Regions from separate parts of the Homo sapiens genome. Here region 2 is linked to region 1. Evidence: fine-mapped expression QTL. Tissue or cell type: whole blood. Region 1 holds a variant in brackets; the other region holds the start of a gene. All regions are shown on one strand. Distances are between the middles of the regions.

What was found. PIP is the estimated chance that this variant, and not a neighbour inherited with it, causes the effect.
Region 2: it holds the start of SBF1, and the variant in region 1 is fine-mapped to the expression of SBF1 in whole blood (TOPMed, PIP above 0.99).

Annotation. Positions count from the first base shown.
Region 1 is chr22:50,299,204-50,304,917 of GRCh38, reverse strand. All of the region lies in intron 1 of PLXNB2 (plexin B2), which reads left to right. Among named protein-coding and RNA genes, the nearest start is that of PLXNB2, 5.6 kb to the left of the region's middle. RefSeq lists a silencer at 3,178-3,227 and enhancers at 3,365-3,921, 3,922-4,478. The variant A/C (reference allele first, on the strand shown) is at 3,358.
Region 2 is chr22:50,472,350-50,477,691 of GRCh38, reverse strand. It overlaps SBF1 (SET binding factor 1), which reads left to right and starts at 2,657. Exons shown (of 41, transcript NM_002972.4): 1 at 2,657-2,906. The coding sequence starts at 2,852. RefSeq lists enhancers at 1,495-2,404, 3,315-4,224, 4,225-5,136 and silencers at 2,501-2,705, 2,286-2,745, 3,166-3,295.

The sequences.
Region 1 (5,714 bases):
ACACGGTTTGGGGATGAGGTGGTGAGCTGCTCAGAATTCACCCAGTGGCCAGCAAGTGGCCCCCCAGCCTTGACCTCCCTTCTCTGAGGCAGATCCAGGTTCTCTGGGGGTGGGAGATTCAGTAGGGCTGGGACTGGCCACAGCCCCTCCCTCCCTCAGGGGTAGTGGCTGTTTGTGTTTGGGGTGGGGCTGTGGGTGGGGTGGGGCTGGGTCTCTGACTAATTACACGATGGGGAGGGTGGGTCAGAGCCTTGGCTGGTGGGGGGTGCTCAGGCTCTGGGGCCCCGGGGAGGCAGCTGCCCTAGCTTCCCTCTTTCTGGTCGAGGTTCCTCCACCTTCTTCCTTTCCGTGGTTTCACATCCCTTGACACAGGGCCTGCTTCTTCCCATACCCCTGGATTGTAAGGACCCCTGCCTTTCTCTGCCTACCAGGGAAGGACCCTGCACTGTTCTGGGCTCCCCCAGCCACAGGTGTGGCCTCAAGCCAGGCCCTGACACAGTGGCCCTCCTGGCTCAGAAGCCTTCTCTCTGAAGACCAAGCGTGTGAAGGGATTGGCTGGGCCCCTCCCGTCTGGCCCTGAACACTGGCACCCCGCACCCCCCCAGTGGATCCACCCTGCCCTGTGAGATTCATGAACCTGTGACAGTGACTGGCCCCAGGCCCAGTGGTGCCGGGGATGGTGGGACAGGCTGCCCCTGGTGGTACTGCAGGTTTGCCCCACCCCCGGGGATGTCTGTCTGGGGAGGAGCCTGGGGCTGGCCTGGCTGTGGAGCTGGGGGTTCTGTTTCGCACAGTCCCGCCTCTGCAGCCCAGATCCTGGAGCCCTTCACACCCAGAGGCCAGCCCACACCGTGGCCCGCTATGGTTGGTGGCCTTCCCTGGGGGTAGCCCCTAAGGCCACACCTGAGCTGCCTCATGTCCCAGGCTAGGTGAGGGAGGAGACTGCCCTGGGCTGGGATCAGGGCGCCTGGGGGCAGGTCCAGCTCTCTTCCTCAGCCCCCTAAGGTCTCCTGGCTTCTGAAAGCCAATAGTTCCTCATTCCAGTGCCAGCTGAGTCCCGGCCCAGGCCTGGGGCAGGAGAGGGAGGTGCTGCCCCAGTTCAGCCACCAGCTCTGCCAGCAGGGTCCCAGCAGCAGCAGCATCAGAGGCAGGGACTGGGCTCCTGGGGGTAGGGCCCCGGCCCCTCTGGCACAGCTGGTCAGCAGCTTCCATGGGGGGCCCTGTGTGGAGACACAGTGTCCAGCACCGATTTCTGGGCCTGATGCTGCCCCAGCTGAGTCCCGCAGCAAGCGCAAGAGAGAGAAGTGCTTGGTGTCCACCTCTGAGAAGGCCTCCTGTGTGAACACGGCCCCCTGAGGGGCCAGGCAAGGGCGTCTGCTCCTGTGGCTGGGACGGTTCCTGCCCACGAGCCTTGTGTAGGGCTGCGGCTCTCTTCCCAGGTGACCTTCTGTTGTGGTCTGGGGCCCCCGAGCCAGCATGCCACCTGCTCAGAGACAGATTGGGCCCCCTGTCAGATTGGCGTCTGGGGGCACTGTCTGCTCCTTCCAGGCAGCTTTGAGGACTTCTCAGAGGAGGAACCCCCCTGCCCTGCTGGTCCAAAGTGGGGTGCTGAAGGCCGAGGCAGTTTCCAGGGGGCTATGCCTCAGGCTGCGTGGGTGGCTGTGGTAGGAGCGTGCTCTGTGATTGTCACTGCATTTGCCTGGGGTCCATGCTCTGTCCTCAGCTGGGGTCTGGCTTTGAACCTAGGTGAGTTCTGGGGCTCTGAGGACAGGCCAGAAGCAGGAGTGTGGGGGGGTCTCTCCTGGGGGAAGCAAGGGAGGCCTGGGCCTGTGTGACTCAGACGTGGTAGGGTGGCATGGGAGCCACAGCTTGGGGGGATGGCGGGGGGCTTGAGGGTAATCCAAGTATTTCAGGGACCCAGCCATGGAGAGTGGGGTTTGAGGACCAGCAGGAGGTGAGGACTCTGTGGATCCCAGCCCTGTCAGGTGTGTTTTCAGAGCTGGGGCCTGCTTTGGAGGAGATGGAGGGCACAGAACACTGCTGAGCCCAGGCCCTGTGCCCAGCCTTGCTCCAGCCTTACCGGCTTGACACCAGGGCCTCCCTCCCACCAGCGAGGGGGAGAAGCTATTTTAAGTGGAGCCAGCAGTTGACAGGGGCAAGGGGCAGGTGGTGGGAGGGAGGTGCTCCAGCATGGCCCCCCCCACTCCCTCTCAGCCTCAGAGATTGGCCAGGGGAGCTGAGGGGCTTGGCCTCCCCACTCCTATGTTGGCACCGAGCCTGATCTGGTGACCACCCTGAGGGACTTCAGGAGAAAAGGATGTTAGGGAGGAGGGCGTGAAGGTGGGGCGCCCCAGGCAGGCCGCCCAGGCCCAGCAAAGCTCGCTGGAGGGTCCCCCAGTTCCACATCTAGACCTGGGGCCCAGTGGCTCTCGACCAGGCCCTGTGGGGTTTGAAGTCCTCAGCTCCACCATGAGCAGAGCAAGCCTCCGCGTGGAGCAAGGGGCTGGACCTGGCCTCCAGGGGCACCCACCTCCCCACACAGCTCCAGCCACGGGCATCACCTCCCACTCACTGTCCTGCCCCCACTCTGAGATGGGCATTTCCTCACTGGGAAATCCCTGTCCCTCTGGCCTCCCAAAGCCCTGAGTGTTTGCCCCTGTGGGGCCCAGCCCACACCCTGGGCTGCCTCACCCTTGGCCTGGACCCAGGTCCTGCCCAACACCCTGTGCCTCACCAGCCCCCAGCTCATCCTGGGCAGACGCAGCCCCTCTCCCCTGCTGAGACGGCCCTGCCCCCACCCCACTTCCCCATGCCACACATGGCCCCTCCCTCGGGGCTCCAGGCAGCGCTGGGTTCTGAGAGCCCCACTGCCCCTCTTAGCCCAAGTGCCCCGGCCTGAGGCTTCTCTCCCAGGCTCTTTGTACTGGGGACGAGTTCTGGGTGTTGGGGTGAGACCCTGTTGGCAGGGCTTTTCCGGCAGCACCCAGCCATGTGTGTCTGCACATGTGTGGTCATGTGTGCAAGTGGTGTCTGGCACACAGGCTTGGCGCGGTGCCCCAAGCTAATTGTGGGGTTCAGCGGTGATGGGCGAGGCGGGGCTGGGGTGACCGCTGAGGCGCTGACAGGCTGACGGGGAGATTACAGGCCTTGCTTACTGCTCACTGGCTGGGGCCTCACCCGTCCACCCCCCAACGCCCACCCCGGGGGTGAGAAGGGGGCTGTGGGCGGGGGCTGGTCTTGAGCCAGCTGCATCCAGGCAGGACCTGGTCTCTGAGCAGCCGGCTGCTGCGGGGTTGAGCTGGAAAGGGGGAGATGCGTGGGGGCCACTCAGAGGAGAGCCTGCAGGTGGGGCTGGGC[A/C]CCGGCGGGCCGGGAGGCCTCCTTTCAGGAGAGACTCCAAGTGACTGAGCCCCAGAATCCCACGAGAGTCCCTCCGTGGCCGCCTGCTGTCTGACCGCATGTCCTGTCCTGATGAGTTGGTGGTTCCTGCTGTAGCCATCGGCCTCGTGTGCCCCGAGCGCCTGGCGGTGCCCACCCCTCCCACAGGAGGTCCTCAGGAAGCACGGAGACATCGGTAGGTTCATTGCGCTGCCCAGCTTTCTGACCCGAAGGACCACGGTGTAGCAAGAGGGGGCTGCAGCTGTGCCCAGGTTGGACAGGATGGGGTCTGGGACCCCGAAAGGGGTGGTTGAGGAGAGAGGTGGTTCTGCAGGCCTGGTGCGTGTGGGGACAGGGCGCCGTAGCCAACTGGATCCCACCTTCTGTCTGAGGGCTGGGGAGGACCATCCTCCAGATGCGCCAGTGGGCCGTGGCCAGAGAGGAGGCTGAGGAGGGCCTCACAACTGTGTGTAGGATGGGAGGGCAGCCTGGGGCCCCAGTCTAGGGACGCACCATATACAGGGGCTGCACTTGGTGCAGAGGCGGAGAGGGGGCTGGGGCAGGCCCCTTGGGCATGGCCAGGTGAGCTCAGGGGGTGCCTGAGGGCCAGGGCTAGATACAGAGGCCCTGGGTACCAGGTGGCCTGGGTGTGTCAGGAGGTGTGGACCAGTGGGGGCTGTGACTAACTCGGCTGGAGCAAGTGACAGGAGGAGCTGGGGCTTCATGGGGCACCCCCAGGATCCTGGGCTGGTGACCCCATCACTGCCACCAGCCAGGGTGACTTTTCCTGCTGGGACCCAGAGCCCAGACTGCAGGGGAGGCTGGCCCTAAGTAGGAACCCCACCCTGAAACCAGGCTGGCGGGGAAGGGGTGCGACGGCCTCCACCTGGGAGGGGTCCTCAGCCGAGAGTCCAGCGGGGACCGCTGTAGACGCTGAAGCGAGGCTCAGGCCTCCACATCAGTCTGTCCCTGGAGCCCCGCCCCGCCCCGCCCCGCCCCAGCTCCTAGGTCGGGTTGTGCCGGGAGCGTTCGGCCTTTGCCTCGGGTGAGTCTGGCCTTGACCCTGGGTCCGGAGTCCTGCGGGAGGCTGCTCCGGGCAGGGTCGTGCATGATTGGCAGCTGGGCCGGGAGGGGCCGAGCCCTGAGACCGACCGGGGGCACGGGCGGAGCCACCATCGGCGGGGCGGAGCTGCTCCCCGCGCCCCTTCCACGGCTCGGAGGACTTAGGTAATGGCCGGCTGTGCGATCCGATGTGCCCGACGCCAGGTGAGCGCCCCGCGGGGACGACGTCTCCTGCGCTCGTGTGACTGTCGCCGCCGCCGTCATTGTTACTCGGGTCAGACTCCCACCCGCCCGCGCGTCCTGGGCCCCCGGCCTGGTGAGGTTTGTCCCAGAGGCGGCCACGTGCTCCCTCCAGGTGCGCGAGGCCGAGGGGCGGACGGGGCGCCGGAGTCCCCGGGAGGGCGCGGGCGGTGGCCGTGGAGCTTGGGCTCGCGGGGGGCAGTGGGCGGCGCCGAGGAGGCGCGGGCCTAGTCCCTGCGCTTCCTGGCCCCGGGCGCGCTTTGCCCCTGGCTCCCGGGCAACCGTTCTGCGCCCTCCGGGGAGTCTGGCGGTGCCGGCGCCGGGGGAGGGGCTGTGCCACCTGGGTCGGCCTGCGAGGAATAGTCCAGGGCGCTCCACACAGGCCGGGTGCCCGCCTTTGGCTCTGGCCGGGTACCGGGCTCGCAGACCCACCCAGGAGACACCGCCCCCCGCCTCCCGGGCTGAACTCTGACCCGGGTCACCGGTGGGTGGGGCTGGGTGGCGGGGCCGCCGGTCTCGCCCTCGCCGGGTCTCCCGCGCGCTCTCCACCCAGTCCCTCCCCGCGCCTACCCACGGGCGCGGCGCTGCGGGAAGGGGCGGCCGGGGTCCTTGCCGACCCCCCAGCCCCACGCCCCGCGGCACCCCCCTCGCGCTTGTTTTGAAAACAGCGGAGGCTGGGATTCGCCGGCGCGTCTGTTTTGTTTCCTCTGATGTGTTTAGCGCTCTGGGATAATTGCAGATTTGCGTGTGTCGCTAGCTTTGGCCCGGCCCCCTGGCTGCTGGCTGCGGGGCCTCCGGGGCCTCCGTGGCTTTTCTGTGACGCCTGTCGCCCCGTTCCGGGACAGCCACTCTCAGACGCGCCTTGGCCTGTGCTTGGGGCAGCCTATCGCTCACTTGGTCCGAGGCTGCTTCCCCCGCCCCCGCACCGGGCCCCCCCCCCACCCCACGCAGGGCCTGTGTCCACCCCAATCCTTTGAGCCCTGGAGGGCCGCACAGCCCTAGGACCTCTGCCTTCTCCACCGCCCATGTCCTAGGTG
Region 2 (5,342 bases), 170 kb before region 1:
GCAACTCTCCTGCCTCAGCTTCCCGAGTAGCTGGGATTACAGGCACGCGTCACCATGCCTGGCTAATTTTTTGTATATTTAGTAGAGACGGGGTTTCACCATGTTGTGCAGGTTGGTCTCAAACTCCTGACGCCAAGTGATCCACCCGCCTGGGCCTCCCAGAGTGCTGGGATTTACAGGCATGAGCCACCACGCCCGGCCTTTGGGGGGTTTTGTTTGAGTGTTTTATGATGGCAGAGGTAAGTTTGACTCTGATAGCAAGGAATCCATAGACAGGGAAGGATGGAGTTTGGCGGCGGGCACTGACAGTGAATGATGGCCTGAGATGAGGAGTGGGCAGGGGGGCAGAGCCCTGTGGTAATGGAGGGAGGGGTGGTGTGAGAGGTGTAAGATGGGGGCTTGGTGCTCCCATCTGATAGCTTCTATTTGCTCTCTGAGGAGCAGCCAATTATCTCAGAGACACTGGAAGTGGGGTGAGAGGTTCGAGGAGAGTGCAGACTGCAAGACAGCTGACCAGAAATCAGCAGGCTGGGCGGTAGGGAGGGGCATCCATCCATCTGAGACACTGAGCCACTGTGGATGGTTGTTCCCAAGGGCCTGGTGGAAGCATGACAGTGGAGAGAGTGCGACGCAGGGTCCCCAGAGTCTCAGAGAGAGTGGAGAGTGCGGTGCAGGGTCCCTAGAGTCTCTCCGAAGAGAGCCAGCCCTGGGCTCAAGCACTAGCCCAGACTTGCCCCGGGCCCCTGCCAGCCTGCACACAAGCTCAGTGGTGTGGTAGTGTGGTGCTGAGGACCTTTTTGGGTACAAGTGACAGAAACCAACTTGAGCCAGCTGGGGCAAAAAGGAGGATTTCTGGCAGGGCACAGTTTCTCACACCTGTAATCCCAACACTTTTTGAGGCAGATGCAGGAGGATCATTTGAGGACAGGAGTTCAAGACAAGCCTAGGTAACTTATCAAGACCCTGTCTCTACAAAAAAATTAAATTTTAAAAAGATGATTTCTCAACCTGTGAAAACCAACAGTGGGAGAGGAGAGGCGTAGCGTGGCCTGTGCCTGAGGGCAGGGAGGGGACCCTGGTGGGGCCTCTCAGTTTGATTCCATTCATTCTCTTGGGCTGGCTCCTGCCCATGGATGGAGACTGGATGCCAGTCATTTGGCCAGTTCTTGCAGCAGCCAAACTCATTTAAAAACAGACCTTCAGGGCCAGGCGCGGTGGCTCACACCTGTAATGCCAGCACTTTGGGAGGCCGAGATGGGCGGATCACGAGGTCAGGAGATCGAGACCATCCTGGCTAACACAGTGAAACCCTGTCGCTACTAAAAATACAAAAAATTAGCTGGGCGTGGTGGCAGGTGCTTGTAGTCCCAGCTACTCGGGAGGCTGAGGCAGGAGAATGATGTGAACCTGGGAGGCGGAGTTTGCAGTGAGCCAAGATCACGCCACTGTACTCCAGCCTGGGCGACAGAGCGAGACTCTGTCTCAAAACAAACAAACAAAAACAAACAAAAAACAAAAAACAGACCTTCGGGCTGGGGGCGGTGGCTCATGCCTGTAATCCCAGCACTTTGGGACGCCATGGTGGGTGGATGGCCTGAGGTCAGGAGTTCAAGACCAGCCTGGCCAACATGGTGAAACCCCCTCTCTACTAAAATACAAAAATTAGCCGGGCATGGTGGTGCACACCTGTAATCCCAGCTACGCGGGAAGCTGAGGCGGGAGAATTGCTTGAACCCAGGAGACGGACGTTCCAGTGAGCCAAGATGGTGTCACTGCACTTCAGCCTGGGTGACGGATTGAGACTCTGCCTCAAAAACAAAACAAAACATAACAAAAAACAGACCTTGGCCTGCTGTGCTCAGAGGGGTTTCCCTGCTGCACCAGGCTGGCTCCTGCACCTTCTCTCCCAGCATGTTCTGCTCTGGGCTCATGCTCATCCCTGAGCCACTTCAGGGGTGGCCCTGGCCAGCCCTGCCCTTGAGAGGGGTGGGCACTGTCAGGGATCCTGGGGGATGCAGCTTTCCCAGAGCCCCCTGCTCCGTGGCCTCATGTGCCTCACACGCTTAGAACATTTGCTCTTTACAGGGGGACATGAGCGTGCCGTTTTTAAGCTGTGTTAAATGTCTCACTTGGCCTAGATGGGGGCTCTTCAGCCTGGGACCCCAAGGGCAGGGCCTGAATTCTCTCTCTGTTCCCCATCGCCAGGCTGGCAGCCCCTGAGGTGATGGCCCTGCGCCTCCTCTGACTTCTAGTTTGGGGGGCCCGGTAGGCAGCGCCTAGGCTTCTCCCGCCTTTCTCCCGCTGGACAGAGAGGGGCGGGGGACGAGGAGTCTGGGGACCCGATCCCCAGATTGGGACGGCCCAGGGGTGGGGTTCGGGCTCCTGTGCGGGGAGTCCCAACGGCGAGGGCAGCTGTGGTCCTGGCCCATGCCTCCCGCCGACACCACAGCCGACCCGGGTCAGGGCGTCAGACCCGCCGGAGCCGTAGTCCAGGTGCCCGGCCCGAGGGGCGGTGCTCGGGCCCCAGAGTGGTCAGCGATGGGCGGGGCGCTGCTCTCGGGAGCCGCCCTCCCACCCTCTGGACCAATGGAGATGCGCGGTTGCAGGCCCCGCCCGCTCAGGGCTTGACGACAGCGCGCAGGCGCACGGCGCGCCCGGGCGGGCCGGCTGGCTGGGAAGATGGCGGCGGGAACCTGGGCCGCCGCCGCCGCCGCCGCCGCCGCCGCGGAGCGAACCAGGGGTGTCCGGGGTGCGCGGTCCAGGGCCGGGGCCGGGCCATGAGCGCGCCGTCCTCGAGTCCCCGAGCCGCGGAGCCCGCCCGCGCCCCTCGGGCCGCCCCGCGTCCCTCGCCATGGCGCGGCTCGCGGACTACTTCGTGCTGGTGGCGTTCGGGCCGCACCCGCGCGGTGAGTGCCGAGGCCAAGCGCTGAGGGCCGGGGGCCGAGGGTCGAGTGCTGAGGGCCAGGGGCTGGGTCTGAGGGTCGAGGGCCGGGGGCTGGGGGCCGAGGGCTGGGGGCTGGGTCGGGAGGCCGAGGACTGAGGGCCGGGCGCTGAGGGCCGAGGACCGGGGGCTGGGCGCTGAGGGCCGGGGTCGGGGGAGCCGAGGACTGAGGGCCGGGGCCGGGGGCCGGGCGGGGACTGAAGGCCAGGGCCGACCGGACAGCCCGTGGGGAGAATGGGCGTCCGCTGGGGGCGGCGTGGCCGCGCGGGCCTGGTGGCGGCAGGGAGAGAAGGCTGGGCCCGGCCTGCCCGGCCTCCTTGGGGTGGGACGGGCTCTCTCCTTGGCCAGCTGCGGGCGGCTGTGGCTCTAGTGGCTCCAGGGGCGCGGACCCGCGGCTCGCCAGCCCGCCTCTGACCTTGGTGCTCCGTCTGAAGCCCCCGGCGGTCTTGGCGGGGTGCAAAGAGGGGGTGGAGTTCGGGTTTGGTGCATGGAGAAGCGGTGTTTGATTTGAAACTGGGAGGATTTGAGGAGGAAGCGTCGAGAGTAGAGAGAAGAGCATTCCTGGCGACTCGCCTGACGGTCCAGGCCCTGCACGCCAAGCCCTGGGTGGGGTATCAGCGTGGCGGTCGGTGCCCATGCCCAGGAGGTCTGTGTGTGGGGTCAGCGCCCGTGTCTGAGAGCTCTTCAGCCCAGGAGGTAGGAGAAAACGGAGCCTGACGATGACATCAGCAACAGCCTGGAGACAGCAGCGTTGGCGAGCGTGCTTGGTGTGCCAGGCCCCGCACAGCCCTTTGTGTACATGATCTCACCTCTTCCTCCCAGCAGCCCACCGGGGTTGCCCTGGTGTTGCCCCCATCTGTAGAGAAGTTAGGCGCGGATAAGCTGACTGCCTGGCCTGAGCCGGCTCAGAGAGGCTGGGACTGGCACTCAGGCTGTCAGATCCCAGCTGCAGACTGGCAGTGTGTGGGGATGGCTGTGTGGTCAGGCAGGGGCTGGATCTTGAGCCTGGAGGTGGGATTGAGCTTGCCTTCCCAGTTACCCTGTTTTTTGTCAGTCCAGTTGTCACTGTCCCCACCAAGGACCTGGAGTTCTCTCTTTTTTGTGTTTCTTCTGCTGGACACCCCCCTACACTTCCTGAAGCCTCTTTAGCATCTTCTTCGTCTCCAGCCCCTCCTCAGTGCCCTCTTACTCAGCACACACTCCTCTCTGCTCATGTCTATCCAAGTGTGTGTCTTATGGCACCGTCAGTCATGAGCATCTGTCTTTTTCTTTAGAGAGGGAGTTCTCGCTTGCTAGGACCACATAGTCCTCATCCCCACTGTGCAGGTTGGCTGTCAATGTTGTCTTGACCCACAGAGGGAGCTGTCTGCACCGAGGCACCTATGAGGGGCATGGAGGAGGCCTTACCACCTGGGGCAGAGGGTGCCTGAGGATCCAGGGAAGCAAGGCTGGCTGAGGGCTGTCTTGGCGTGAGGGGCCTTGGGCTGAGGGCTGGGGCGGGGGCTACAGGAACAGCTGATAATGACCCTGATGATCCTGAGGGCAGTGTGGAGAGGGTTTGGGTTGGTAGAGACTGCAGGCAAAGGCCAGGTGGGAGGCGTGGTGGCCGTGGGGTGAGGAGTTGAAGGTAGGCAGAGAGAAGAGGCAGAGTGGGCTCCACAACAAGCTGGCTGTGACGTGTGTGCTCACTGCTGGAGCCACACGTAGTGCAGGCACCTGTTTGTGTGTGTCCTTTGCGCAGGACAGGGTAGAAGGCTGGAGCCCAAGGTGCCCCCCCTTCCCCTAAGTGACCGGAAGGAGTGATAAGTGGTCCACTGCAGTAGGGTTGGAGGACCGTGGAGCCCTGTACCCACTACCTTCTGGGGTTGAGCTGGTCAGCTGCTTGCTGGCCTTGCAGCCCCAGGCACCCCTTAGAAGGACTTGTTCATTCTTGAGGGGAACAAGGCTATAGACTGGGACCCTGGTCATGGGCTGAGGGCAGAGCCAGGTACCAGGGCCGGTGGGAGCTGGGGGAAGAAGCAGAGGAGTGTGGCGTGGGGGTCACTTGTCTCTGCTTTGCCCCTTGATAGCCTTGTGACTTCGAGCCAGTTGTTTGGCTCTCTGTGCCTCAGTTTCCTCATCTGGGGATGGAGTGAGTCATGCTAACCTCCCAGGCTGCCGTGAGGATGCAGCGAATGCACAGGTGTGAAGCAGTAGCACACAGGAGGCCCTGGAAATGATGAGTTTCTTTCATTAGTGACTGAGCAGCAGGTGTGTGAACTCTCTAGGCACAGACACAACAGGCACTTCTGAGTGGGTAGAGGATCCTCTCTGTTCTGTCAGGCTAGGACTTCAGGGCGGGATGCAGGGTCTCTTGGGTTGGGGATTAGGATTGGCGGATAGCTTGTCTTGGCCTGGATCT